Linked DNA regions of Homo sapiens. The protein of the gene in region 1 purifies or fractionates together with the protein of each later gene. This does not show direct contact. Each region holds a gene or a part of one and is shown in the gene's direction. Other genes may lie near its edges. The genes, in order: RAD51AP1, USP12, USP1 and JUP.

Region 1 (7,027 bases):
TTCTATGGGAATTCAGTCAAAAAAGTTCTTGGAAGCTATTAATTGTGCAAAGCACTGTGTTAAACCTTTGGGGTGTGCAAACTTCAGGGACACACAGAACAGTTCAATTCAGTGATAGCATTTGGGGAAAAAGTTTTTTCTACGAGTTAACCTTTAAGCTATGCCTTGAAAAATGAGTAGCGTTTCAACAAACTAAAGGTGTAAAGTAGCATTTCTGACTAACAGAAAGGCATTACCTGTGGAATAGACAAATGCTCTATTTGTCTCTAACTGAGGCTTGCTGGGATGAACATGGAAGAGGCTCGAGAGGGAGGCTGGTACTAATCAGGGAGGGTCTCAGACCCACTGGAAGAAGTGTAGGCTTTTTTTTCCTGGAGGTAGTAGAAATCCATGAATTATTCTGAGGCAGAAGTGATATGAAATCTATATTTTATTATGATGGTTTTTAGACTCATTTAGAAATTGGGCAAATGGAAAGTGTAGTGACCTTGACAGAACATTATAACATATTAATTAAAAATTTAAATTCATAAATTCATAAATGTAGGCCAAATCAAGATACCATATTTTAGATTTTGATATACTATCAACAAACAATAACAGATTTGCTCATCGTCACTTATTCGACTAATATTTGAATGCTTTTTATGTGCATTATATTCTAGATACTAGGGATACAATAGTGAAAAAAACAAACAGCTCCTGTCCTTCTGGAACAACGGAAATACATGAAAAAAGACTGTTTTGCATTTGTTTTACTTTGGGAGGGCCTGGGAGACAGGAAAATGCAAAGACACTCTTTGAGCGCCAATGTGATGCTTAAAGGAAATACTCATTTGAGCATTTTGGATTTCTGGAATTGGAATGCCCAACTGGTATAATGCAGATGTTCCAAAACCCAAAGAAAATCTGAACCCTGAAACATGTCTGGTCCCAAGCACCTCAGATAAGGGATACTCAGCCTATACTATATGATCTAGCAATCCACTTCTGAGTATGTATCCAAAACGATTGAAAGCAGGATCTCAGGGAGACATTTGCATACCCGTGTTCATAGCAGCATTATTCATAATAGCCAAGAAGTGGAAGCAGCCCCAAAGTGACATTTCAGTTTTCCCCCTGCATTCGCTTGTCCTGGATGAGAATAGAAAGGACCATGTGTGACCTTCATTAGGGAAAGAAAAGAGAAAATTGCAGAGAAGATAAGTCTTTTCTCTAACAGTTCCCAAAATCCGTAACTGAAGTGTTTGGGCCTTCCAGATTTTCCTCTATGGGATGCGAATGACTTGGAATTTTGGGAATTCCAACTCCCCATCTCTAATTTTATTTAAATTGCTTTCTCAATTGACTGACGAAGATTAGTTGGACCCCATTTCTGAACAAGCTTGTTACACAGAAATGTTGCCAGGGCCTACTGTTTATCCTCTTGAGCCAAGAAGAGAATCCTTCAGACTTCTAAGTTACTGAACACATGCAGTATCAGAACTATTGGATACACAGAAAGTTTTGTTGTAGATAATATATTTGGAAAGTTTGGAGAAAGTTCCTCTACCCCTTGCCTTCTTTGAGCGGAGAGCTTCTTAGGATTGCTTGAATTTGCAGGCTGCATTTCTAACAGCCCTCATGGGACCTGCTGGCCTTTCTGGGCTGATTCTCTATAGCACGGGAACCGTTATGTGAACATGTGAGTTGATTATCTTTAACATTGTGTGTGGGAACAATGATAGAATAAGGACATTGCAATTTGAAGATCATAATGACATTGTTTTTTGTTTTTGTTTCGTTTTGTTTTTTGAGATGGAATCTCGCTCTGTCGCCCAGGCGGGAGTGTAGTGGCACGATCTTGGCTGACCATGGCCTCCGCCTCACAGGTTCAAGCAATTCTTGTGTCTCAGCCTCCCAAGTAGCTGGGACTACAGGCATGCGCCACCATGCCTAACTAATTTCTGTATTTTTAGTAGAGATGGAGTTTCAGCATGTTGGCCAGGGTGGTCTTGAACTCCTGACCTCATGTGATCCACCTGCTTTGGCCTACCAAAGTGTTGGGATTACAGAGGTGAACCACTGTGCCCAGCCCATAAATGACATTGTTGATTTAGGTAAAGGTCATCAATGGAAGGTTGATAAGGATCTTTACAATGTTGAATTCAGGCTGGCATCACCTGAACCACCTAAGAGAGGGACAACCACACATTATATGATTTCTGATGTGATGTAATATGAAGTACAAAGAATATACTTATGAAGTATATTCTTGCCGTCCCTCCTCCCCCCACCACCAAAAAAAGCGAGCCTGAATCCACTCAAGCCTTGAGAGCAGAATTCCAGCTCACATAAAATGCAAGAATATGGCCGGGCACAGTGGCTCACACCTGTAATCCCAGCACTTTGGGAGGCTGAGGTGGGTGGATCAGTTGAAGTCAGGAGTTCGAGACCAGCCTGGCCAACATGGTGAAACCCCTTCTCTACTAAAACACAAAAATTAGCTGGGCGTGGTGTTGTGTGCCTGTAATCCCAGCTACTTGGGAGGCTGAAGCAGGAGAATTGCTTGAACCTGGGAGACAGAGGTTGCAGTGAGCCAGGATTGTGCCACTGCACTCCAGCCTGGGCGACAGAGTGAGGCTCCATCTCAAAAAAAAAAAAAAAAAGCAAGATTAAGTTAAATGACACCATGAGCTAGAAAACAGACAAATCCAGAATTTAGGACATTCTACAGGACAATTGACTCAACTGCTTCAGCAAGTCAGACACAAGGGAGGACAGGGAGAAGATACTGCTCTATATTAAAAGAGATTAATATAGACTGAATAGAAGATGATACCAAGAAACTAGTGTTGGTATTGCTAGATGTAATAATGGCATTGTTGTATGAGAAAATGCTTATGTTTTTTAGAGATACATTCTGAAGTATGTAGGAATGTAATGATGTGATGCCTTGATTTTATTTTAATATACTACAAAAGGGAATAGAAGAAGAAGAGCGAGATAGATGAAACAAATGGAGCAAAATGTTGATAATTGTTGAATCTGAGTGGTGGTTTATTACTGTCTACTGTGGTATAGGTTTGAAAATTTTATATGATTGTATTTTACATATAATATTTCTTATAGATAGGTAGATATTAGTATGTGGGGACAATAGTGGTTATCTCTGAGTGGTGAGATTACAGAGTAGATTTTCTTTAATAAAGTTTTGTATGGTCTGTATTTTCTACAATCAGCATGTACTGTTTATTTTTCATTTTATTTGTACATTTTTTGATTTAAGCATTTTCTGCAATAAGCATGTCCATAATATTAAAAATGTAAAAAAGTTTTATATTAATATAGGACTAACCCTATTTACACTTAGTTTTCAGAGTTTATCTACAAGGCATGGTTTTCTGATCCTAACCCCCTCAAAAAATAGAAAGATCATTGCTTAACTATCAGGTTAGGAAATGCTTTTTTCTAGAGCAGCTGTAGCACTTTCAAAATTAGATCACTGGCTTATATTTTGCCACGAAGTGCAGAAAAGCATTTTTGAGAAATAAAGGTTTGTCCCAAATGAAATCAGCTCTAGGATTATCTGCTAAGATTGTTGTGTATGGTTATCTCAATTCTCATTTGGTCTGTTCCAGAATGTTGAAGTTTATGTGATTAAGGGAAGGCTCACTATTACCATAAATGTCACTGTTTTGAAAGACTAGCTATTGTCATACCCTACCATTCTTTTCAAAAGTCACTGAGTTAAAATGGTAAAATCTGAAGTAAAGATTACTGATGGGAAATTTATAGTGATGGTGGTAATAGCAAACAATTTTATTTTGCTCAGTATATTGCAGATGTTATTCTAAATGCATTATATATATATTAACTCATTTAATCCACGCAACAACCCTTTGATGGAGGTTTACAGTTATCCCCATTTTCTAGGTGAGGAAACTGAGGCTCAGTGAAGTTAGTGACCTGTCTGAGGATGCAAACCCAGGCACCCACAATGGCAACCACTGCAGTGTTCTGCTACTGGAAACAGTGCAGCACAAAGGTGCATAAGAATCTGAAAGCTGTGGATAAAGTTAAGGCAACAGAATCCTCACTTTTTAGAGCAAAGATGAACTATATAATCTTCTGTTTTAGGTGAAGATTCTGAGGATGATTCTGATTTTTGTGAGAGTGAGGATAATGACGAAGACTTCTCTATGAGAAAAAGTAAAGTTAAAGAAATTAAAAAGAAAGAAGTGAAGGTAAAATCCCCAGTAGAAAAGAAAGAGAAGAAATCTAAATCCAAATGTAATGCTTTGGGTAAGCTTGGTCCAAAACACTTAATTTTATAAAGGAAATGTATGTGGTTTGTTTGCCGTATTTTTCTTATTTTTGCCTTTGTTCTCTTTAACATTTTCCTAACGTCCATTTCTTGTTAAAATATGTAAAAGGAAGGTGGGGTGGGGAAGGGAGAAAAGCGGACAAGAATGCTGACTCCACTACGTATGCTAGCACTTACTGTATATGACCTCACTTTGGTACTCATGGCTGCCGTCTGTGGTTAGCTGTTGTCACCTGCATTCTACAGTGAAAAACTGAGTGTCAGAGAGGTTAAATAATTTGTTGGAAATCTTACATCTAATAGGTGAAGGGCTAGAATTTGAACCCATGTTTGTCCATTCAGAGTCTAAGCTGTATCTTGGACCATATTTTCTCCAGACAAAACAAGGAAGTTTGCATAATTCTAATTTTTTGCTTTTGTGCTTTACTTAGTCTGATTTGAGAGCTCTTTTGCCACATGTTTAGGGCCCTTTTTTTTTTTTTATTTCCCCAAAACAAATTCCATTAGAAACTACTTTTATGATAAAACGTTTAAAATTTATGGTGACTCGAACATGGAATACCTGTTTCTTGTGTAAAAGAAGTTAGGATATTTTTGAGTTCATAGTATATGATAGGTTATTGCAAAATATAACTGTCATTAACTGAGTTTGTTTTATTTCTTGATAATCATTTTTATGTCTTGGTTTATTTAATATATATGCTATTGATATTAAAAGTTCCATTATTTAGTCTTTCCATTTATTCATAGGAGCTGCTGTCACCTTCAGTAGCCTGTTGCTGAGTACTTACTAAGAATTAAATGAGAATTAAGTACTGATTGAGTTATATTCTTCTCTCTCCTGTATTTTGAATTAATGAGGTTTTTTAATTAGAGTGTTTTTTTTTTAATTGATGACTTCATCTGGGTTCCAGAAATTCTGAGTATCAGAAGTCGAAAGTGGTTCTCACTGGGCTAAAATCAAGTAGTCAGCAAAACTGTGGTCCTTTGTGGAGGCTCTAGGAGACAAACCACGTTCTTGTCTTTTCTAGCTCCTTGAGGGTGCATTTCTTGGCTTGTGGCCCCTTCCACCTTCAGAGAGCAATGGCAGGGACTTTCTCACATCATGTTACTCGACTCTGACTTTCTTCCTGCTCACGTTTACTTATAAGGACCCTGTGATTACATTGGGCCCCTCCAGATAATTCAGTGTAATTTCCCCATCTAAGATTCTTAATTACATCTGCAAAGTCCCTTTGCCATGTAAGGTAACATATTCACATGTTCTGGCAATGACGATGTAGACATCTGAGGAGCCAGTATTCTGCCTACTACAAGCTATAATAGGAAAAAGTTATTAACACCATGAATATATTTTGTATTTTCTTTAGATGTTTGTTTATGCTTCTTCACCAAGACACACTAATAACTAAAAATAAAACTTCAGTTCCCAAGTTGGAGTTTACCATTTAAAATCTTTTCTCTATCCCTTGGAGCAAGTTGCTTCACAACTGAGATTTAATATATAATATTAGAAATGAAATTTAACCATTAAGTGATAGGACTAGGAATTAGGAAAAATGGATTATATTTTTAGTCCTACTAGTAATGTATTGGGTAAACTTTGCGAATTGTGTCTAGCACATGTTATAATTTTCCCTTGATAGAAAAAATGTTGAGAGCTATGCTGTCCAATATGGTAACCTCTAGCCATGTGTGGCTATATTACATTTGAATTAATTAAAATTAAGTAAAATTTAAAAATCAGTTCCTCAGTTTTGCAAGCCACATTTCAAGTGCACAGTAACTGTATATGGCTAGCGGCTACCATATTGGACAGCACAAAACACAAAACATTTCTATAATCACAGAAAGTTCCATCAGACAGTGCTGATCTAGAGGATGCAGATGTTAACATTAGGAAGAGTATACGGTGAAAATGTTCATGTTTATATGTGTTGAAATACCCCTAGGTATCTCAAAACAAGCACTGTCTGAAAGTGAACTTAATGCCACCTCTCCTCCCTCCCCACCACCAAAAAAATAAATAAATAGAACCAAAACATACTTCCAGGCTTGTGTTTATTCTCTAGATAAATGGCACCATCAAAGTGTGCCCATGACAGGAACCTGCAAGTCATGGATTATTTCTTCATCTCCATTGCTGCCTCCCACCTATTTTTGCCAAAACATATCTAATGTGCTGTTTTCCTTCTATTCTCCACCTTAGCAGGCCCCCATTTCCTCTTACCTGATTACCATAATAACCTTCTAAGTAGCCTACTTCTCCTACACTACCACCAGAAAGATGTTTTTAAAATACAAATCACTCCTGAGAAAAATATGTGCATGACTGTGACTAGCCAGACTCTTGTACATGGTCTGCAAAGCTCTTCATAAGTGATCTACACCCAGTGTCTATCTCTCACATTTCCTACCCTTGAGATTTCTGCTCCAGCCGTACACTGAACCAGTCAGTACTACTGATTCTGGAACTTGGTGCATCCTCCATCTTTGCACACTGTACTCCCTCTGCCTGGAAAGCTTCTCTCAATTCACCTTTACTCTTCAATCTTGATTTGGTTCAGACCATCCTCACTCACCTCCTTCTAACTTTAAAACACATACCCCCAGATTGCAGTTTCCTTTTCTACTTGGCATACCTTTAGAGTCTGCCATATCCCTTACCACACTGCATTTTACACATCTTTACTTTCCTGTTCTTCCCACTGAAGTCTAGTG
Region 2 (7,027 bases), on another chromosome or scaffold:
CCCTAACAAAATTATAGCATAATTTAAATAAATCATTCTCCTGTTGATAAACATTTAGGATATTTTCAGACTTCTGCTGTTATAAATAAGCAGCCGTATTTATGCTTGTTTTGGTACATGCACAGATACTTACCTGGCATCGATACCTGGGAGAACTAGGTTGCATTATTTTAAATCTGTTACCAAAATTGCCTTTACAACGTGCCATACCAGTTTATACTCCCAGCAGCAACAGTTGAGAATGTCCATTTCTCCATACTCAAGCTAACACTGGATGGAAACTAAGTCAATTTTTATTTTGCCAAAGTGATGGGCAAAATGATATTTTGTCATTGTTTTAATTGTTATTTCCCAGTCCCTTGTCATGTATTATTTAGGCATTTGTATTTCTACTCTGAATTGGCTATTTTCCTTTGCCAGTTTTTAAAATTTTTTTTCTTGTTTTGTAAAGGGTTTTTTTTTAAATATTCTGTATATTAAACCTTTACATAGTCTGGATATTAATATGCAAATAATTATCCTTGTTCGTCACTTGTCTTCATTTATGTTGACTTTGCCATACAGAAGTTCATAGTTTTTACATAGTCAGTCTTTGATGTGTTTTGTATTCTGTTCAGTAGCAACAACAATTATATAGGTTGAGCATCCGTAATCCAGAAATCTGAAACTTTTTGAGCTGCATGATGCCACATGGGGTGGCTGAGGTAGTAACAACTTTACTTTCTGATGGTTCAGTGTACACAAATTTACTTCCCTGCACAAAGTTTTTAAAAATACTATATGAAGTTGCACTCCATCCTGGGCAACAAGAGCAAAACTCCATCTCAAAAAAAAAAAAAAAAAAGTACTATATAAAGTTACCTCCAGGCTATAAGGTGTATATGAAACAAATGAATTTCATGTTTAGATTTGAGTCACATCCCCAAAATATCTCATTATGTGTATGAAAATATTCTCAAATCTGAAGCAGTCTGAAGTCCCAACCACTGCTGGTCCCAAGCATTTTAGATAAAGGATATTCAACATGTAGTGATATTGCCAATATTGTTACTGTGGTTGTTGTTGAACAGAATACAAAACCTATTGTTGTATTCTAAGCACTTTTAATCTTCCTCCCAGCCTTGTGAGGTACAGGTACTGCTGTGAGCCCCATTTTTCAGATGAGGAATTATGGAACAGGGAGCTTGAATAAGTTGCCTATGCCACGCGTGCAGTTAGAAGTAGAACCATAGCACCAACCCAGACAGCCTTGCTCTAGCAGCTGTGCCCTCCTACCCCCATAAAAAGCTTCACTCATTCCCTTTCTGTTTTTACAATGACTTTGCAAAGAAAGATGGTATTCTGTTTTGTTGTTGTTGTTTTTGAGATGGAGTTTTGCTCTTGTTGCCCAGGCTGGAGTGCAATGGCGCAATCTCGGCTCACTGCAACCTCTACCTCCCGGGTTCAAGCGATTCTTCTGCCTCAGCTTCCCAAGTAGCTGGGATTACAGGCATGTGCCACCATGCCCAGTGAATTTTTTGTATTTAGTAGAGACGGACTTTCACCATGTTGGCCAGGCTGGTCTCAAACTCTTTACCTCAGGTGATCCACCTGCCTTGGCCTCCCAGAGTGCTGGATTATAGGCATGAGCCACTGCGCTTGGCCTGCTTTTTTTTTTTTTTTAAACTTACTATGGGATTGAACATTTTCTCATGTTTTTTAGCCTTTTGATTGTTTTTTTCTTATAAATTGATTGCCATTTATAAGATTGTCCAGTTTGGTTTTCTTTTATATGAGATTTGCTTTTATATGTTGAAAATGTTAATAATTTTCAGGTTTCACTTTTTTTAAAACTTTTTTAAAGATTTCTAATACATAGAACTTAATTTTATGTAGTCATATCTGTATCTCTTCTAAAATGTAATTGTTAATTTGTTTTATCTTAGACTTTCCCTAAATTTTTTTCTAAATTTGTATGCATTCATTTTTAAAATGTAAAATCTTTCTGGAACTTATTAAATGTACATTGAGGATCTAAAAATAAAATGTCCTAAATAGGTAATTTTTCTCAATGCATTTTATTGACCAATTCATGTATGTTCTTGTGTGTGGGCTTATACTGGGCATTACTTTGTGTGTGGCATGGTGGAGTCAGGCTGCCCAGTTTGAATCCTGGCTCTGCCATTTCTTGGCAGTGTGACTGTACTCTGTCTCGTCCCATTTTCATGTTTACAAATAAAGTTAATAACAATATTACATGGTTGTTGGGGATCAAATGAGATACTGCCTCTAAAGTCCTTACTGTTCTATGGTAGAGTTGTATATTGCCAAGCACAGGGTAAAGCACGCTTGATGTTAGCACCACCAATATTTCAGTTATATTTACTCATTTGTGTAACTGCAGGGAACGTTTTGTGGAATTATAAAGTCTCACATTTGGAAGGGACTTGAGATTATCTGGATTATATAGATAATTCTTGATAACATGATTCTTAAACCTGACTCTACATCAGAGTTAGTTGGAGGAGCTTTGAAAAGCCCCACGTTCTGGGCTTACCCCTTATCAACTAAATCAGAATCCCTGGGATGTATGGTTCAGTAATTTATTTTTGATAAACTTTGTGGGTCTAAAGCAGTTGGCTTGGCATTGGCAAATGGTTGTCCAACTTCTGCTTTAAAGCTTGCCAAGTTGAAATATTTGTGAAATAATAAGTCAGGTAAGCTAATAAGCAATTTCTTCTTAAATTCTCAGTATCTGTTATGCCAATATATAAGGATAGGTTTTGCCCTTTTCTCAGGATCAATTAGTAGTATTTTTAAACAAGATTTTAATTAATTTTACATTTTCCCCAAATACAGATAAAAGTTTTAGATGCGAAAGTTATTTGTTATACATTACAAAAACATTGTGCATTTATATTTTAGTTCTGATCCAATACTAGATATTCTTTTATAAATTGGTTTTTTATGAAGTTATGAATTCTGAAATAATTCTCTAATATAATGTTTTTATTTTCAGAGCTTTTTGACAACTACATGCAACAAGATGCCCATGAATTCTTAAATTACCTACTAAATACAATTGCTGATATTTTACAAGAAGAGAGAAAGCAGGAAAAACAAAATGGTCGTTTACCTAATGGTAATATTGATAATGAAAATAATAACAGCACACCAGACCCAACGTGGGTTCATGAGATTTTTCAGGGAACATTAACTAATGAAACCAGATGTCTTACTTGTGAAACTGTAAGTATATCATACAATTTTGTATAGAGAAAAATTGAATTACTATGTTAAAGGTTGTTCTTTGAGAAAGACAGAATGGAAGATGAACTTGAAAGTTGTAATTCTTAGGTATAGGAGTTAAAGATGTATTTTTCAGTTAAAAGGAATCTGTCTGTATTCTTAATGTAATGTTGCTTATTGACAATGAATACCTGAGGTGATAGAAAGATACTTACTGTAGCTTGAACTGTTTGATTTTCTTTCAGTTTAGGAGGCCATAGAACCATGTTGTGGAAATTATGTCTTATGACATAATCTCATAGGATCATACAGATCAGGGAGGCATATTAATTCGTTTTTCCTTTTTCTACGATTACCTTTAGTATCCATTGTTGGGATAAAAACTAAAGCATACAGTGTACCCTCAAGGAGGGGAAAAAATCCCACTTGCTGGACACTTTGTAAAGATGAAGCTTGAAAATTGTTACACCCAGGCTGGAGTGCAGTGGCCCAATCTCAGCTCACTGTAGCCTCGACTTCCTGGGCTCAAGCAATCCTTCCATCTAAGCCTCATAAGTAGCAAGGACCACGAGCACGTGCCACCACACCCAGCTAATTTTTAAATTTTTATTTTTTGTAGAGACAGGGGTCTTACTGTGTTGCTCAGGCTGGTCTTGAACTCCTGGGCTCAAGCAGTCTTTCCACCTTGGCCTCTCAAAGTTCTGGGATTACAGGTGTGAGCCATTATGCCCGGCCAGTCATGTTCTTTATAGCATTTTCCCTATTCAGTACAGAATCCAATTTAGAGGGGGACATTGCATTTAGTTGTTTCTTTAGCCTTCTTTAACCTGAAACATTTACATGGTCTTTTTTTTTTTGAGAATATGCCTCCCTCACCTTTTTAAAATCAGATGTTCTCATATTTAGTTTCTCTGATGTTTCTTCCTAACTAGATGCAGGTTATGCATTCATGGCTAATAATAATATATCATTCATGTTGTGTTTTTCTCGGGGCATCACGTCTGTAGGCACACAATATCCATCTGCCTCTCATTGGTGAAATTAATTTTTGATCACCCAGTCAAGGTGGTGGTGTTTCTCCATTTGATTTATTTATTTGGAGACAGGTTCTTGCTCTGTCGCCCAGGCTTTAGTGCAGTGACACTGTTATAGATCATTATAGCCCCAAGACTCCTGGGCTCAAGTGATCCTCCTGCCTCAGCCTTCTGAGTAACTAGGACTACAGTGCATGCCATCACCCCCAGCTAGTTTTTAAACTTTTTTGAGACAGAGTCTTGCTGTGTTACCCAGGCTGGTCTTGAACTCCTGCCCTCAAGTAACCCACCTGCCTCAGCCTCCCAGAGTGTTGGGATTACAGACATGATCCACCGTGCTGGGCCAGTTTCTCCACTTTATGATGACTTTTTTTTTTTTTTTTAAATCCCCTTGCAATTAGTAGGCAGTCTGTGGGGAGACACAAATACCTCCCTCCTCATCAAAATCTCACCCAAGATTTAGCATGCATTTATGATTTTGCCTGATCTCATCTTTACTGTGACAGTTGTGCTGCTAGTTTTTAATAACATTGGAAAATAGGGTCCACAAGCAAGAAAGCTAAGAGTCCTGTAAAGTCTCCATAGTTTTGCCTTTTCCAGAATATTGTGTAGTTGAAATCATATAGTATGCAGCCTGTTTGGATTAGCTTCTTCCACTTAGCAATATGCATTTAAGGTTCTTCCATGTCTTTTTAAGGCTTGATAACTTATTTCCTTTATTTTTGGCTGAGCAACATTTCCACTGTAAGGATGTGCTGCAGTTTTTAAAGTTCATTCACTTACTGAAGGACGTCTTGGTTGCTTCCAAGTTTTGCCAATTATGAATAAAGCTGCTATAAACATTTGTGTGCAGGTTTTTGTGTGGATGTGAGTTTTTACTTCCTTTGTGTAAATATCAAGGAGCAGGATCACTGGATTGTATGGTAAGAGTATACTTAGTTTGATAAGAAACCAACATTCTGTCTTCCACAGTGGCTGTACGATTTTTCCTTCTTACCAGCAGTGAATGAGAGTTCTTGTTTCTCCACATCCTTGCTGACATTTGGTGTTGTCAGTTGGATTTTGGCCATTCTAATAAGTGTGTAGTGTTATCTCATGTTAATTTGCAAGGCCCTAATGACATATGATGTTGATCATCTTTTTGTCTGCTTATTTATCATCTATATCTCTTTAGTGATGTGTCCAGATCTTTTGTCCATTTTTTAATCAGGCTGTTTTTCTTTGAGTATTGTCGAATTTTAAGTGGGTTTTTTTTTTCGGGTATAATTTTGGCTACTAGTTCATAATCAGGTGGGTCTTTGGCAAATATTTTCTCCCAGTCCGTGACTTGTTTTTCATTCTTTTAACACTGTTTTTGGCAGAGTGGAAGTTTTTTTTTTTTGAGATGGAGTTTCGCTCTCGTTGCCCAGGCTGGAGCGCAGTGGCTCACCGCAACCTCTGCCTCCTGGGTTCAAGTGGTTCTCTTGTGTCAGCCTCCCTAGTAGCCAGGATTACAGGCACGCGCCACCACGCCCGGCTAATTTTGTAATTTTAATAGAGACAGGGTTTCTCCATGTTGGTCAGGCTGGTCTTGAACTCCCGACCTCAAGTGATCCACCCACCTTGGCCTCCTAAAGTGCTGGAATTACAGGCGTGAGCCACCGGGCCTGGCTGGCAGAGCAGAAGTTTTTAATGTTTTAATTATCAGTTTTTAATTTTAATAAAGTCCAACTTTTTCTTTCATGCATTATACTTTTGGTGTTGTATCTAAAAAGTCATCCATAAACTAAAGGTCCCTTAGAATTTCTCCTATGTTATCTAGGAATTATATAGTTTTTCATTTTATATTTAAGTCTATGATCCTTTTTGAGTTAATTTCTGTATAAGGTATTAGAAAGTTTATTCTGGGTTAATTTTTTTGCATGTGGATGTCCATCTGCTCCAGCATCATTTGTTTAAAAGACAATTCTTTCTCTGTTGAATTGCCTTTGCTCCTTTGTCAAAGATGAGTTGACTCTTATTTGTGTGAGTGTATTTCTGGTCACTGTCTTCTGTCCTGTTGGTCCGTATATCTGTTCTTTCCCCACTACCACACTGTCTTGATTACCGTAGCTTTAGAGTAAGTCTTAAAGTCAGGTAGTCTCAGTCCTCTGACTTTGTTCTTCTTCAATATTTTGTTGGCTATTCTGGGTCTTTTGCCTCTCCATGTAAACTTTAGAATCAAGTTCGTCGATATCCACAAAATAACTTGCTGGGATTTTGATAAGGATTTTGCTGAACCTATAGATGAAGTTGGGAAAAAAATGATATCTTGACAAAGTTGAGTCTTCTTATCTAAGTACATGCACTGTCTCCCCTTATTTACCACTTTTTTTGCTATCTTTCATTGGAGTTTGGTAGTTCTTCCTCATATCAATACCATGCGTGTTTTGTTAGATTTATATTTAAGTATTCATTTTGGGGGGTGCTAAGCACCAACTATGCCAGGTAGAAGATGGTAGAAGATGAGTAAGACATAAGCCTCTGATCACAAGATACTCCTATGGTAATGAAGACTGGCAAAGCAGTGTTCAGGCAGTTCCAGTACAGTGTGTTATCGTATGTGTATGCACAGGATGCCATGCCAGCCAGAGAATAGTAGACCTAACCCAGGTGGGAGTGGGAAGGATTTGGACAGGTAAAGGACCAGCTTCCTGGAGGAGCTCATGCTTGTATTTTAGAAATGCAATTGGTAATGTCTCAGGTGGTAGGAAGCTGGTGTCTATAACACCCTTTTCTGGTGTTCT
Region 3 (7,027 bases), on another chromosome or scaffold:
ACATTTCTGTACTTTAAAAATTCTACAGTAAAGCAGCAGTGAACTTGGTTGACAACTCCAGTCTGACTTGATAGTCTGTAGCGGCACAAAAAAGTACGCTTCAGTGTACTTCTTAGTCAAATCTAGCAGTTTATAGTAGGAACAGCAAAACTGGTGGTTCCCCGTAGGAATCACATCGATAATGTTTAACTCATGTTAACACTGTGCTCAGCCATTTAGACTAACTTGGAGAAATATTTGTTGACTAAAATTGTCTTTCTGAGTTTAAATTTGATTATTTGTAGTGCAAAACATCTGTGTAGGGGTAAAAGGTTTTATATATATATATATATATATTTGTTTGGTTCAGAAGACTTGACAGTTATAAGACATTTTAAACTCTAGTCATGTAACTAGTCATACCTGTTGGAGGCATATGATTGCAAATTATAAAAATAAACTTTAAGTAATGCTTTTGATGCAAATAAATTATTTAGCTACAGAAAATAAATCAGAACAAAGTGGAATACTTTATTCCACCACCAGCAGCTCTAGCTGGAGTCTGTACTACTCCCTGTTTAACATATAGGCACTCTGCTGGGTGACTAAGGTGGATTTGGTCCCATGTGTTAATTTCCTAATAGCTATCAATAACCAGTTGAGGAGATTTGTGAGAGTGAAGCTTTTGTTTATCAGCATTCATACTTCTGAATACTTTGAGGTGCTAGAGTAATAATAGCTAGCAATCGTAAAATAAATGAAAATATTGGAAGGACCTAGTGGTTTTTTTGTTGTTGTTGTTAAAGAAGTAAAAGAATAGTAAACTTAAAGCATTTGTGTTTTGAGATGGGGTCTCCTTGTGTTGCCCAGGCTGGTCTTGAATTCCTGGGCTCGAGCAGTCCTCCCAAGTAGCTGGAATTACATGTCAATGCCCCCACACCCACATTCTGAACATTTTATTTTTAAGTGAGGGATAGCTACATATTTTTTTTTTTTTTACCAGCAGGAAGTCATATATAATTCTCTTCACAGACTTTCTTTCCTCTGAATTCTTATTAATAGAATCTTACTTAGTGCAGCCTCTCCCAAATATTGTCATGGTTAGTTTATTCCCAGGTTTCTGTTCAGTTAAACTATTTGATTAAAATGTCAAAGTAGATGAAACAAATCATAGTCTCTCAGTTCCTCAATTTTCTACTCTGTAAAATAGGATTAACATCCTTTTAAGGGAATTGTTCTGTGGCTTGTTATGTGTAATAATGTTTTTAAATGCTTTTAAAACTTTTATTCTGGGCATATAGCAATTTTTGAGCCTGTATTTCTTAAAATGTCATCTGAACAAGATTCACATACTTTTCAGATTATACAACTTTTGGGAAAAGACTAAATCTACAGAAGTAATATTTTCACCTTGTTTCTTTAAGATAACTACTTATCGTTCTCCCTTCTATATTTCATAGTGATCAAGTTGTTCCTGCAGCACAGTCTTCACCTATAAACTGTGAGAAGAGAGAAAACTTGTTACCATTTGTGGGACTGAATAATCTCGGCAATACTTGCTATCTTAATAGTATACTTCAGGTAAATTGACAATTTTGCTATATCATAAAGCTTTAGTAGGCAAAGATTGATGTAGCATTTAATGTTTTTGAGTTATTGGAGGACTTTAATGTCCATACTGTCTTTGCCTTTGATTGTTAATAAACCAGAATAGGCTAAAATAATAAGTTACATGTTATTAAACTTCCTTTGGGGTAAGAGAAAATGATAGACTAAATAAAGGTGGGATAGCAAAATTGAGTAGACCTTAAGTGGAAGGTCAAACCTTTAATTTCTTTCTCTGATTCCTGGTGCTACAGTGTGATATATGTCTTATCCCTTGGAAGTAACGTTGGCATTGTGTTGTGTGTCCGTTGGCGCTGTGTTGTGTGTCCTTGTAACCTTAAAGTCTTAGCAATATCTGCCCAGGTGCAGTGCTTTGTGCTAATGAGGGAAGACACTGGGCTACTACTGATGAAGTGGAGAACAAATTTTGACACAAAACTTAATCTCAGAATTTTAGGGTAATACATGTTAAAAGTGCTCTATAGAAAGCATGATGTTGTTTTAATGATTTTACGTGTATTGTTTGTTCAGTAAACACTTAAGACAATCTCACTTTTTATAGGTATTATATTTTTGTCCCGGTTTTAAATCTGGAGTAAAGCACTTATTTAATATTATTTCAAGGAAGAAAGAAGCTCTAAAGGATGAAGCCAATCAAAAAGACAAGGTAAGAAAAATAAAGAACAGAAAATAATGTAAAAAGCAAAAGTAAATTAATGGAAATTTACTTGCCTGGAAATGAAGAGGACTGGGGGGGTGGATGACAAAGATTATTTCTCTGTTAGCGAGCTATTGTCAGGCAATTATTTTTCATTCTTTCAAGGTGGCTAACTAGATAATTCCCTTTTACAATGTTTGCTCCTGTAATCTGTGTATCAAACTTTTGTTACTTGTATACTATATATTACTGTATACTATAATCACAATATGTTATACCCATGTACAACTTATTTACCCATTGTGTTTTCAAATTGAGTTAAAATTTAAATACAGTGTATTTAAAGAAATCTTTAACTTCCATAATTAAAAAACCATTGTAATTCACATAAATAGTAATTCATAATTCCTCTTAAAATTACAAAAAAGACCAGACGTGGTGGCTCATGCCTGTAATCCCAGCAGTTTGGGAGGTCAAGGTGGGTGGTGGATTGCTTGAGCGCAAGAGTTTGAGACCAGCCTGGGTAACATGGCAAGACCCTGTCTTTACTAAAAATACAAAAACTAGTAGGGCGTCATGGTGTGAGCCTGTAGTTCCAGCTAATTGGGAGGCTGAGGTGGAGGATTGCTTGAGCCCAGGAGGTTGAGGCTCCAGTGAGCCGCGATCAAGCCACTGCACTCCAGCCTGGGCGACAGAGACCCTGTCTCAAAATAAAAAAATAAAAAATAAGGCTTATTTGTACATCCCTTAAAATTAGTGCTATTATGCAACTTAGAAAATCTAGTATTCTTAAGTGAGACAAAGACAAAGGGGGAAGGTACTTAATTTGTTCATAAAATTATTGGTTTGTGTGTTTCTTTCTTGACAGGGAAATTGCAAAGAAGATTCTTTGGCAAGTTATGAATTGATATGCAGTTTACAGTCCTTAATCATTTCGGTTGAACAGCTCCAGGCTAGTTTTCTCTTAAATCCAGAGAAATATACTGATGAACTTGCCACTCAGCCAAGGCGACTGCTTAACACACTGAGGTATAGCCTATAATATAATTTTAGGGTTTCAATTTAGCTACTTGTTTATATCCTTGGAGGAGAATGACATGCGAAGAAACAGGAATAAAGGGCAAGGAAAGTAGAAACTCTAGGTCCACAGTCCTTTATATCCCAGAGACTCTGAATACTGGAAATTTTTTTCATAAATTTGGTGCTAAATTCGTTAGATCTGAACATATTATATGAGGCTTTTTATAGTCATTCATATTTATCTCTAACGTGAATATTCATACATGCTTCTATAGAAGTAGTAATGTGTTTAGTTATAGAGTACTCCCATATCAAGTCGGTGATAAATATTTTACTTATATGCCATATAATCATTGAATCTGAAAATGTCTGAATTTCTAAATGCGTGGTCCTAAGGATTTCACATTAAGAATTATAGGACTATATTCAAAATATGTGTAAGAACTGTAAATTCCAAATATTCTATTTTTATATGTGATTAGAGGAGAACTGTTGGCTAACTGGATTAGATTGCTTTTTGGTATTTTCTTAAAAATGAAACTTTACATATAAAATAGCCTTATTCAAATACAATTATAGGGCAAGTCTTTAAAACAATCACTTAAGCATTTAGTTTAAAAATAGAACTAGGTGCAATATATTGCTATACCTTAGTTAAGAGGTATTGTAGGCCGGTCACAGCTCACACTTGTAATCCCAGCACTTTGGGAGGTGAAGGTAGGTGGGTCATTTGAGGTCAGGAGTTCAAGACCAGTGTGGCCAACATGGTGAAACCCTGCCCCTACTAAAAATACAAAAATTAGCTGGGTGTGGTGGTTTGCACCTGTAGTCCCACCTACTCGGGAGACTGAGGCAGGAGAATCGCTTGAACCCGGGAGGCGGCGGTTGCAGTGAGCCAAGATTGCGCCATTGCAGTCCAGTCTGGGCAACAGATCAAGACCCTTGTCTCCAAAAAAAAAAAAAAAAAAAAGGCCATTGTAGCGTGGTGGCCAAGAGCGGGTTTGAATACTGGCTTTTCATCCTAAGTAGTTCTGTGACCTTGGGCAAGTTATTTAACCTGTCTGTGCCTTAGTGCTTGTATCTGTCAGTAATGGTGATAATAGTACCTCATAGGGTTATTGTGAAGATAATGTATACATAGGAGATAAAAAACATTTTGACTAAAACCTGGTGTATGGTAAGCATTATCTAAGTATTAGTTATTAATATATTTAGAAGAGGATCAAAGTATTATAATGAAAATAGGGTACAATTTACTCTTACTTTTAGTTACAGATAAGAAATTCCAAATTAGTGCTGAATAAATGTCTTGACATTTAAAAAATGAAATAATTTATGATTTTCCTTACATGAATTAATTTCTATATAGGCTTTATGTACTGTATCTTCAAAACTAGAATAGATGAAATGGAAATTTTTATTTATAGGGAACTCAACCCTATGTATGAAGGATATCTACAGCATGATGCACAGGAAGTATTACAATGTATTTTGGGAAACATTCAAGAAACATGCCAACTCCTAAAAAAAGAAGAAGTAAAAAATGTGGCAGAATTACCTACTAAGGTAGAAGAAATACCTCATCCGAAAGAGGAAATGAATGGTATTAACAGCATAGAGATGGACAGTATGAGGCATTCTGAAGACTTTAAAGAGAAACTCCCAAAAGGAAATGGGAAAAGAAAAAGTGACACTGAATTTGGTAACATGAAGAAAAAAGTTAAATTATCCAAGGAACACCAGTCATTGGAAGAGAACCAGAGACAAACTAGATCAAAAAGAAAAGCTACAAGTGATACATTAGAGAGTCCTCCTAAAATAATTCCCAAGTATATTTCTGAAAATGAGAGTCCAAGACCCTCACAAAAGAAATCAAGAGTTAAAATAAATTGGTTAAAGTCTGCAACTAAGCAACCCAGCATTCTTTCTAAATTTTGTAGTCTGGGAAAAATAACAACAAACCAAGGAGTCAAAGGACAATCTAAAGAAAATGAATGTGATCCTGAAGAGGACTTGGGGAAGTGTGAAAGTGATAACACAACTAATGGTTGTGGACTTGAATCTCCAGGAAATACTGTTACACCTGTAAATGTTAATGAAGTTAAACCCATAAACAAAGGTTAGTATAATTCTTAGACTTTGATAGGTAGAAGCATTAGCAGCTACAGAATTAGAATTTTCTCTTCCTAGATACATGTACAATATAATCTCTGGCTAAAATTGTTTCAAGAGAAGGAAATTTAACACTGAATGTGAACTATGGTGTTTTAAGTGCTATGCTTAGATTAGTGTGTGTGTATATATTGTATGCATATATATGTGTGTGTGTGTGTGTGTAATGTCATTAAAGTAATTTTAATTTATAGCTTATAAAGTAGGGAAGTTCGGCCAGGTATGTTAGCTCGCACCTGCAATCCCAGTACTTTGGGAGGCCTAGGCGGGCAGATCACCTGCGGTCAGGAGTTCAAGAGCAGCCTGGTCAACATGGTGAAACCCCGTCTCTACTAAAAATGCAAAAATTAGCCAGGCATGGTGGCGCACGCCTGTAGTCCCAGCTACTTGAGAGGCTGAGGCAGGAGAATCGCCTGAACCCGGGAGGTGGAGGTTGCAGTGAGCCAATATTATGCCACTGCACTCCAGCCTGGGGCGACAGAGCAAGACTCCGTCTCAAAAAAAAACAAATAATAATAAAGTAGGGAAGTTCAGTATATTTTAATGTACATTTAAGAGTACATTTCCCTTTATGCAGTGTTTGACATAAACTGATGAAGGACATTGCATTTAGTGAAATTTTAAAAGTAAAGACTAAGTACAGTCATGTGTTGCTTAACAACAGGGATATGTTCTGAGAAATGTGCTGTTTCATTGTGTGAATTTCACGGTGTACTTACACAACTAGATGCTAGAGCGTACTACACAACTAGCCTATATGGTATAGACCAGGGTATCTAATCTTTTGGCTTCCTTGGGCCACACTGGAAGAAGTGTCTTGGGCCACACCACACAGAATACACTAATGATAGCTGATGAGCCAAAAAAAAAAAAATCAAAAAAGTCTCATAATGTTTTAAGAAAGTTTATGAATTTGTTACGGGCTACAGGCAAGCTTTGCATGGCCTATTGCTCCTAGGCAACAAACCTGTATAGCATATAACTACTGAATACTGTAGGCAACTGTAGCACAATGGTATTTGTGTATCTAAGACGTATCTAAGCATAGATATGTAAACATAGGTACAGTAAAAATAATCATAGACTACTGTCATATGCGGTCCATTGTTAAATAATTGAAACGTTGGTAGGTGGTGCATAACTGTAAGTTACACGATACTTGAACTAGATTTTTACCTAGTTTTGTCCAGATCTACAGATATCAGGGAAAATGTGTAATATTGATATAGTGAATAGTTTTACCAAAAATGTCATCCTTATTCTGGGTTTATTCTATGGGGAGGTGTCTGTAGGAAGGGAGTTACAATACAACTGACTTTTTTTTATTTTTTATTTTTTTTATTTTTTTGGAGACAGAGTTTTGCTCTTGTTGCCCAGGCTAGAGTGCAATGGCATGATCTTGGCTCACTGCAACCTCCACCTCCCGGGTTCAAGCGATCCTCCTGCCTCAGCCTCCCGAGTAGCTGTGATTACAGGCATGCACCACCACACCCGGCTAATTTTGTATTTTTACTGGAGACAGGGTTTCTCCATGTTGGTCAGGCTGGTCTTGAACTCCGACCTCAGGTGATCTGCCCGCCTCAGCCTCCCAAA
Region 4 (7,123 bases), on another chromosome or scaffold:
TGTGTGTGTGTGTGTGTGCGCGCGCGTGTATTAGAGAAAGCTGGTGTTTGTGTATCTGAATCTGCACCCGCAAGTGTATATCCCTGAGGTGTGAGCATAGAAGGTTGTGTGTGTGTGTGTGTGTGTGGCTTGTGTACGTCTAAATTTCTACCTGTCTCTGGGGAAAAGGCCCCCATAGAATAAGGACTGTGGGTTTTTTTTCTTTTTTTTTACTTTTGAGCTGGAGTTTCGCACTTGTTGCCCAGGCTGGAGTGCAATGGCACGATTTCTGCTCACTGCAACCTCTGCCTCCCGGGTTCAAGCGATTCTCCTGCCTCAGCCTCCTGAGTAGCTGGGATTACAGGTGTGTGCCACCACGCCCAGCTAATTTTTTGTATTTTTAGTAGAGATGGGGTTTCTCTGTGTTGGTCAGGCTGGTCTCGAACTTCCGACCTTGGATGATCCACCCGCCTCGGCCTCCCAAAGTGCTGGGATTACAGGCATGAGCCACTGTGCCCGGCCCTAAGGACTGTGTTTGAATGGAGAACAGAAACTCTTCCATCTCCTTGTATGGCCCAGAGGCCTCGTGGAAGATGAGGGGGGTTGTGAGATAAGGAGAGGACGGTGGCCTGGTGGTCCTGGACACTGGCTGATGGTGTGCACCCTCCCCTAGAAAAGAGCCTCCCTCCCACCAGTCCCTCACTGAACCTCTCTGCGCCAGTTACTTCTGTCTCTGCAGCAGCTTGAGATGGGCCATGTGGTACCCTTATATTCTCTACTCTGAAGCACTAGCAAGCTGCAAGGTTGAGTTACCCATATGTGTTTTTGGCAGCCCATGGACTCTGCTTCCACTGAGCCCTGGGCAAGAGGAAGGAATTGAAACTGCAGGAATAGGAATTGAGGCTGGACATTAGAACAAGGAGACAGGGGCATTCACCATAAGGGAGGCTGCAGGATCTTCTTTCCTGGACATTTGTCAGAGAATTCTTGCCTTTAAAGGTTTGCAGGCAGGGGACTGGATAAGATGACCTTGCGGCCTTTTCTTCAAGTTCAAGCTACAGGGGAGACTGTGGTCACAGAAACCCCCATCCTATCCCTACATACCTCCTTTCACAAGAGACCAAATTGCCTGTGCAGACAGCTGAGTCTAGGAAACATCATTTCTGATTCTATTCTGTATTCTCAGATACAGATGAATCTCAGTGCCTGCCAGGCACATAGTAGGTGCTTAAAGAGAATCCCTTGATCTGGGAGGAGAGACTCAGCTCTAATCCCAGTCTTTGCCGCTGCTGTGGTGGTGCTTCCACCAGTCCCAGCCTGTGTGTTTAGCTCTGGGGCTGGTGTTATGCAACATGTTCCATGCTAAGACACGCAGGGGGCATTCTGGGGAGACACACACACACACACACACACACACACACACACACGGTTTATTCTGAAACCTTATTTCTGCTCCTCCACCCACATGGGCTCCTCCACCCCTCTCTGCAGTCAACCAGCCCTACCCTGCCTCTTTGCTGAGGTCAGGAGAAATAGGAAGGAGTCAGGCCAGGCTTGGAGCTGGGACGTATGTGTGTGTGCATGTGTGGAGGTGGGAGGTGGGCAGAAGGGGGAAGAAATGAAACCCTGGCAGCTGCAGCAGTCCAGGATTGTGAGCCCATTCCTTCCCCAGCTGTGGCCTGGCTACAGCTCTATGTGACAGGGTGACAAGCAGGTGGATGGGGCAGGGGTAAGGCAGGGATAAAGATAGGGAGGTAAGCTGGAGGATGGAGAGTTGAGGAAACAGGCAAAGGGCGGTGGCCCTGGTTATGGGATGGCCACTAGTTCAGGGATGTCCGTATCTCCCTGGCCCTGCTTTTGGATGGCGCAACTTCAGAAGGGAGAATGTTCAGCTACCATTCTTTTCTCTGGTGGGGAAAGTGGTCAAGGTTGCTGCTAAGGTACCTTCATCCAGCCCATCCTGTGTGCTAGCTTTGGGGCTGTAGAGCTTTGTTGATGGGGGACCCTTTTCTAAACCACCACTCCTCCAAAACCCACCCACACACGCTGCTTCTGCTTATCCTTCTATGAGCTCTTTGAAGGTTGGGATCATTTTTATTTCCTGTGTCACCAGGTTTTATTTTCTGTGTTCACCAGTGCCTAACATACAGTTGACAATGAATACTCAAGTGTTGAATGAAGGAATGTTTGTAGGGCCCTTGGCACACCATACAGCCACGAGCAGCATTCATGTCATCAACCACAGAAAGGAAGTGCCCTTGTCTTCTTAAGCTGCCTGTGAGAAGTCCTTTTTATTTTTTTGAGACAGAGTCTCACTCTGTCACCCAGGCTGGAGTGCAATGGCATGATCTCAGCTCACTGCAACCTCTGCCTCCCGGGTTCACGCCATTCTCCTGCCTCAGCCTCCCGAGTAGCTGGCATTACAGGTGCCCGCTGCCATGCCTGGCTAATTTCTGTATTTTCAGTAGAGATGGGGTTTCACCATGTCGGCCAGGCTGGTCTCGAACTCCTGACCTCAAGTGATCTGCCCACCTTGGCCTCCCAAATTGCTGGGATTACAGGCATGAGCCACCACGCCTGGCCGAGAAGTTCTCTCTGATCTCTACCCCAGGCTCTCCTATCGCAGAGGGGTGTGCTGCCCGGTTTATTTTTTTCTTTTCTTTTTTTTTTTTTTGTTTGAGATGGAGTCTCGCTCTGTCATGCCCAGGCTGGAGTGCAGTGACATGGTCTCGGCTCACTGCAACCTCCGCCTCCCAGGTTCAAGCAATTCTCCTGCCTCAGTCTCCCAGGCAGCTGGGATTATAGTTGCCCGCCACCACGCTCGGCTAACTTTTTGTATTTTTTGTAGAGATGGGGCTTCACCATATTGGCCAGGCTGGTGTTGAACTCCCGACCTCAGGTGATCCACCCGCCTTTGCCTCCCAAAATGCTGAGATTACAGGAGTGAGCCACTGCGCCTGGCCTGCCCCGTTTCTTTCATGCCAGGGCTGGATTTCCTTCAGATCTGCTGCTTGATGTTTCCAAGCCCACCAAAGCCTCCTGACACCAATACTGTATTTTTGTGCCAATTAATTGTTCTGTCTCTCCTCCAAGTGTTTGTGCCTTTTCTCTGCCCCTTCCCCATTGCCTTGACATTTTATGTCTATGCTCCTCTTCCATGAGGGGAACAGCTGGTTTGATGGTCCTTCAAATGAGAGGAAGGAGGTTCTAGCTTGGGGTGTGCCACTTTGTAGTTTTGTGACTTCTCTGAACTTCGGTTTCTTCATCTTTACAATGAGGGTCGTTTTCTCATCCTAACTATTTTTCAGAGCTGTCACAATAATTAAAAAAAAACATACCGTTAATTTAAATTTCTAACCTTTAGCAGTTTCTGAGTGCTTTCACAAACCTGACCTCATTTAATCCCCACATACTCCAGTGAGGTAGATATGGCTAATGTATCCAGTTTACAGAAGAGGAGAAACAGGGTGAAGTAACTTGCCTAAAATCATACCAAGTGGGAGAAGACCAAACCTGGCCTTCTAATTCTAAATCCCAGGAGTACTCCATCTTTCGGGAAAAAAATCCCACCCCAGCACAAAGCCTATGAAATGCTATACAAATATGTGATTACTACTTTGGGGCAAGGATGAATAAGCCCAAAGAAGCATCATGCCTGACGCTGAGTTGGCTGGCCGGTGAAGGCGTCTGTCCCTTCCCTTGGTATCCCTATGACTTACCTGTTGGACAGGTAGGGGGAAGGGGAGAGTAATGAGTCTCACCTGCTCAGAGCAAGGGTGGGGCAAGACACACCCCATCCCTTCCATTGGTTTTTTCCTTAGTCTTACTGACAGAGCCTTGTCCAATCAGGAGGAAGTAACTTTCTATCTGCCAATAGATGCAATGTTAGGATGAGACCTCAAGTTAGAGTCCATCCCTAGAGCCGACTGGCAGTCCCCGGGGCCAATGGCAAGCGGATAAACAGAGGCGGCCGTGGAAGAGGACTGGAGGCGAGGCTCCGCCCCTCCACGGGACAGTCAGGCGAGATAGCCAGTGAGCTCGCACCAGAGGGTGGGCGTCTCCCCCAGGGGCGGAGCTTCGAGGTGGCGAGGGGCGTGGCTTGGCTGTCAGGTCTCTTCGCCTTTTGTTCGGTTACTGAGTTGCTGCCTTGGCCAGAGTCCGGAGCAGCCGCCGCCCGACCACGCCGAGCTCAGTTCGCTGTCCGCGCCGGCTCCCACCCCGGCCCGACCCCGACCCGGCCCGGTCAGGCCCCATACTCAGGTGCGGGCTATCGGGGGCGCAGGTATCGTTGGGGACAGAGGGGTGGCGAGCGGCCGCGGGGCCGGTCCCAGCCGTCCCTGGGCAGGTGAGGGCCGGTGCCATCGAGCGCCACCCTGCACCGGCGGCAGGGGGCGCGCTGGGGTCCTGGGCGCGGCGACTTGGGGGTCGCGCGGTTCGGGCCGAGCGCGCCTCGGAGCTCCGCGAACCAGAGATCTGAGCAAGGCGGGGAGGGATCCGGACAGGTGCCTCCGGGGTCGCGCCTCCCCCGGGGCCCGCGCAGCTCGCCCGACGCCGCGTCCCTGACTCTCGCCCTGGGCTGGCGGGGGAGACTTTGCTCTGCTTCGACTGCGTCCCAGGGCTCACGCTGCAGTCAGGAATTTACCGTTTGGGGAACTTGCTGCCGCTGGTCTCTTTGGGGCCACCCTCACCCCACCCCACGCGTCATCCTCGCTTTCCCTCCCTCCCTACTCCCCCAGGCCTGGGTGGGGCCCTATTGTTTGCGCCCAGCTTGCCCAACTGTGGGGGCCGAGCGCACATTTTCCCAGCGACTCTGGCCCCACCTGCCGAGCAGGTGAGCGCACGGAGTCCAGAGGCCCTGCCCTCCAGCTCCCAGAGCCTCGTCGATACTACCTGCGGCGCCTCCCTCCACGCCGGTGGGAGCCCGGCTCTGGCTTCTTCAGCGGAGGTGGGATGGAGTGACTGGGGGGTGCAGGGCTCGGCTCAGTGTCCAGCTGGTGTCTGGCACCCGTGGCTCGCCCTGGGGTCTGGGGGGTGGGGTCTGTGCACGGATGAAGAATTCAGGGTCACCTGGCCCAGTTTCCAGTAGCTGTGGCTGCCAGAGTGTTGGTAGGGGAACAGGACCCGTCTTCTCTAACCTCTTATTGTTGGAAAAAATCACCCAAAACAAACTTTGCAGGAGGAAGTATTCACAGCAGCTTTATCTGGGGGTTTTCCCGTCTCCTTGCCCAAAACTTCCTTTAGGCTTAGGGGGTCCTTCCTGGTGCAAAACCCCTTCCCCCAGCCGGCCCCTGGCTGAACCTGGGCCGGTGCCTGGGCTCCGACCCTGTCTTCCCTGCCCCCACATTCATCCTGTTCGCTGGGCCCCAGGGGCCTGAGGTAGGGGCCGGGGTGGGGGGTGGAAAGTGCTGAGAGGGGAAGCAGCTTCTTCCTTCTCTTCCTGCCTCCTGGGACCACCACACCCCCTCAGACAAGGCCTGCGTAAGTGGTTGTCTCTCAAGCTCTGCCCCCTCCCCAGGAATGGGGGTGGGGCAGGGCTGGGCCAAACTGAGGAAGGTGGGGGGAGTGGTTGTTCTTGTCTTTTTTTTTTTGCCTCTACCCCATCCCCCACATTACTTAGCTGGCTGGTTATTGAGGCAGAAGCGCATGAGGCTGTGGGACTTGCCTTCCATTTGATTTCTGAATTGTGAAGGTGCATGCTTTCTGGAGGCCTGCACAGACCTTTCCCACCCGCTTTCCTGAAAGAATTTGACAGGGAAAGTGAGACCGCAGGAAGGCTTTTTGGGGGAAGGTTTCTTCAATGCTAGACTCTCTCAGGCAGAGCTGCATCGGGCCCCCTGCCTTCCCTGCTCCCAATTTCCTGAGACCGCCCCCCCCCACCCAGAATTGGGGATCTTGATCAGGGTTTGTACCCCGGTTTAAAAAAAAAATCTGAAATGTGGTCTTTTTGCAGGATTTGGAGCCCAGCCTCGTTGGGGAACAGAGAGAGAATACAACAGTTGGGTTCTCTCTCAGTCCTGGGGGTGGGAGAAAGATTGTGGGGGGCGGGGATCGAGAGTGCTTGGAGGGGAAGAGTCTACCACCTCTTTCTTTGTTGTAGATGGGGGAGTGAGGCTGGGGGCCCAGACTCAGCCCCTTTATCCTGGGTGGGGATCACGCTCAGCCCTGTGCTAGGGGGAAGTCAGTGTGGGAACTCAGATCCTTTTCTGCCGGGGGATGGGATTCTGCACCTCTGGGGAGCAACAGGAGCAGGGAGTTTGGGCAAAAATAACCTGCTTTCCCTCTTCTCTGTGCCAAGGTGGAGGAGGGGAGGGCATTGTAATTATGTTGGCTACATGATTAGTTTAGCTAATCTGGTTTGTGGCTGTGATGAAAAGATAATACTGAGGAAGTACTGCTAGGAGGTGCTTGGTGAAAACTGGCCACTGACTGGACTGGGGGATGCGGGGGAGGAGGAGAAGGTAGGACCCAGTTAGTCATTTCTTGCTAGATCAAGCCCCAGCTTGGGTGACTTGAGCCCTCCCACCCCCACTCCACCCCTCCCTTGCACCCTGGCTCCACCCCATTCCCTCTGGAGCCTCTGTTTGGGCTGCCAGGGCCGAGGCTTTGAGAATGCAGTGCATAGGAACGAAAAAGGTCGGGCTAGGGCTGCCAACCTTTTTCCCATCCTGGAGCCACCTTAGAGTGAGATGGGTCAATTGACTAGTCTACAGAAGGACTGTTTATTTGGAGAGATGGGACAGTGGGGCAGTTCTGAGCACAGGGCTTTGGGCTTGAACTGAGCTGGGTTTGAGACCCAGCTCTGTCTCTCATTACCTGAGCCTCAGTGACCTCTTTGGCAAAATGGGAATACTAATACCTATCTACCCAGTAAGTACTTGACAAACGGTAACTCAAGATCAAGGTAAGACTTTACAGAAACCAAGCACTTTCTTTTTTTTTTTTTTTTTTTTTTTTGAGATGGAGTCTCGCTCTGTCACCCAGGCTCACTGCAACCTCCGCCTCCTGGGTTCAAGTGATTCTCCTGCCTCAGCCTCCTGAGTAGCCAGGATTACAGGCGTGTGCCACCACCCCCGGCTGATTTTTGTATTTTTAGTAGAGACAGGGTTTCACCATGTTGCGCAGGCTGGTCTTGATCTCCTGACCT

Evidence for each region.
Region 2: the proteins of RAD51AP1 (region 1) and USP12 purify together in Homo sapiens (affinity purification with mass spectrometry; 2 studies listed by BioGRID and IntAct, with this or other methods). This does not show direct contact.
Region 3: the proteins of RAD51AP1 (region 1) and USP1 purify together in Homo sapiens (affinity purification with mass spectrometry; 4 studies listed by BioGRID and IntAct, with this or other methods). This does not show direct contact.
Region 4: the proteins of RAD51AP1 (region 1) and JUP purify together in Homo sapiens (affinity purification with mass spectrometry; 2 studies listed by BioGRID and IntAct, with this or other methods). This does not show direct contact.

The regions. Positions count from the first base shown.
Region 1 is NC_000012.12:4,548,864-4,555,890, forward strand, and holds part of RAD51AP1 (RAD51-associated protein 1), read left to right. Parts: intron 1-4,119; coding exon 4,120-4,284; intron 4,285-7,027. UniProt on the Homo sapiens protein: Structure-specific DNA-binding protein involved in DNA repair by promoting RAD51-mediated homologous recombination.
Region 2 is NC_000013.11:27,091,802-27,098,828, reverse strand, and holds part of USP12 (ubiquitin carboxyl-terminal hydrolase 12), read left to right. Parts: intron 1-2,998; coding exon 2,999-3,228; intron 3,229-7,027. UniProt on the Homo sapiens protein: Deubiquitinating enzyme that plays various roles in the regulation of the immune response and inflammation.
Region 3 is NC_000001.11:62,440,049-62,447,075, forward strand, and holds part of USP1 (ubiquitin carboxyl-terminal hydrolase 1), read left to right. Parts: intron 1-1,439; coding exon 1,440-1,560; intron 1,561-2,146; coding exon 2,147-2,251; intron 2,252-3,110; coding exon 3,111-3,271; intron 3,272-4,689; coding exon 4,690-5,381; intron 5,382-7,027. UniProt on the Homo sapiens protein: Negative regulator of DNA damage repair which specifically deubiquitinates monoubiquitinated FANCD2. Also involved in PCNA-mediated translesion synthesis (TLS) by deubiquitinating monoubiquitinated PCNA.
Region 4 is NC_000017.11:41,783,704-41,790,826, reverse strand, and holds the start of JUP (junction plakoglobin), read left to right. Parts: upstream 1-4,115; 5' UTR 4,116-4,239; exon of another isoform or gene 4,240-4,324; intron 4,325-4,719; exon of another isoform or gene 4,720-4,810; intron 4,811-4,850; exon of another isoform or gene 4,851-6,846; intron 6,847-7,123. UniProt on the Homo sapiens protein: Common junctional plaque protein. The membrane-associated plaques are architectural elements in an important strategic position to influence the arrangement and function of both the cytoskeleton and the cells within the tissue.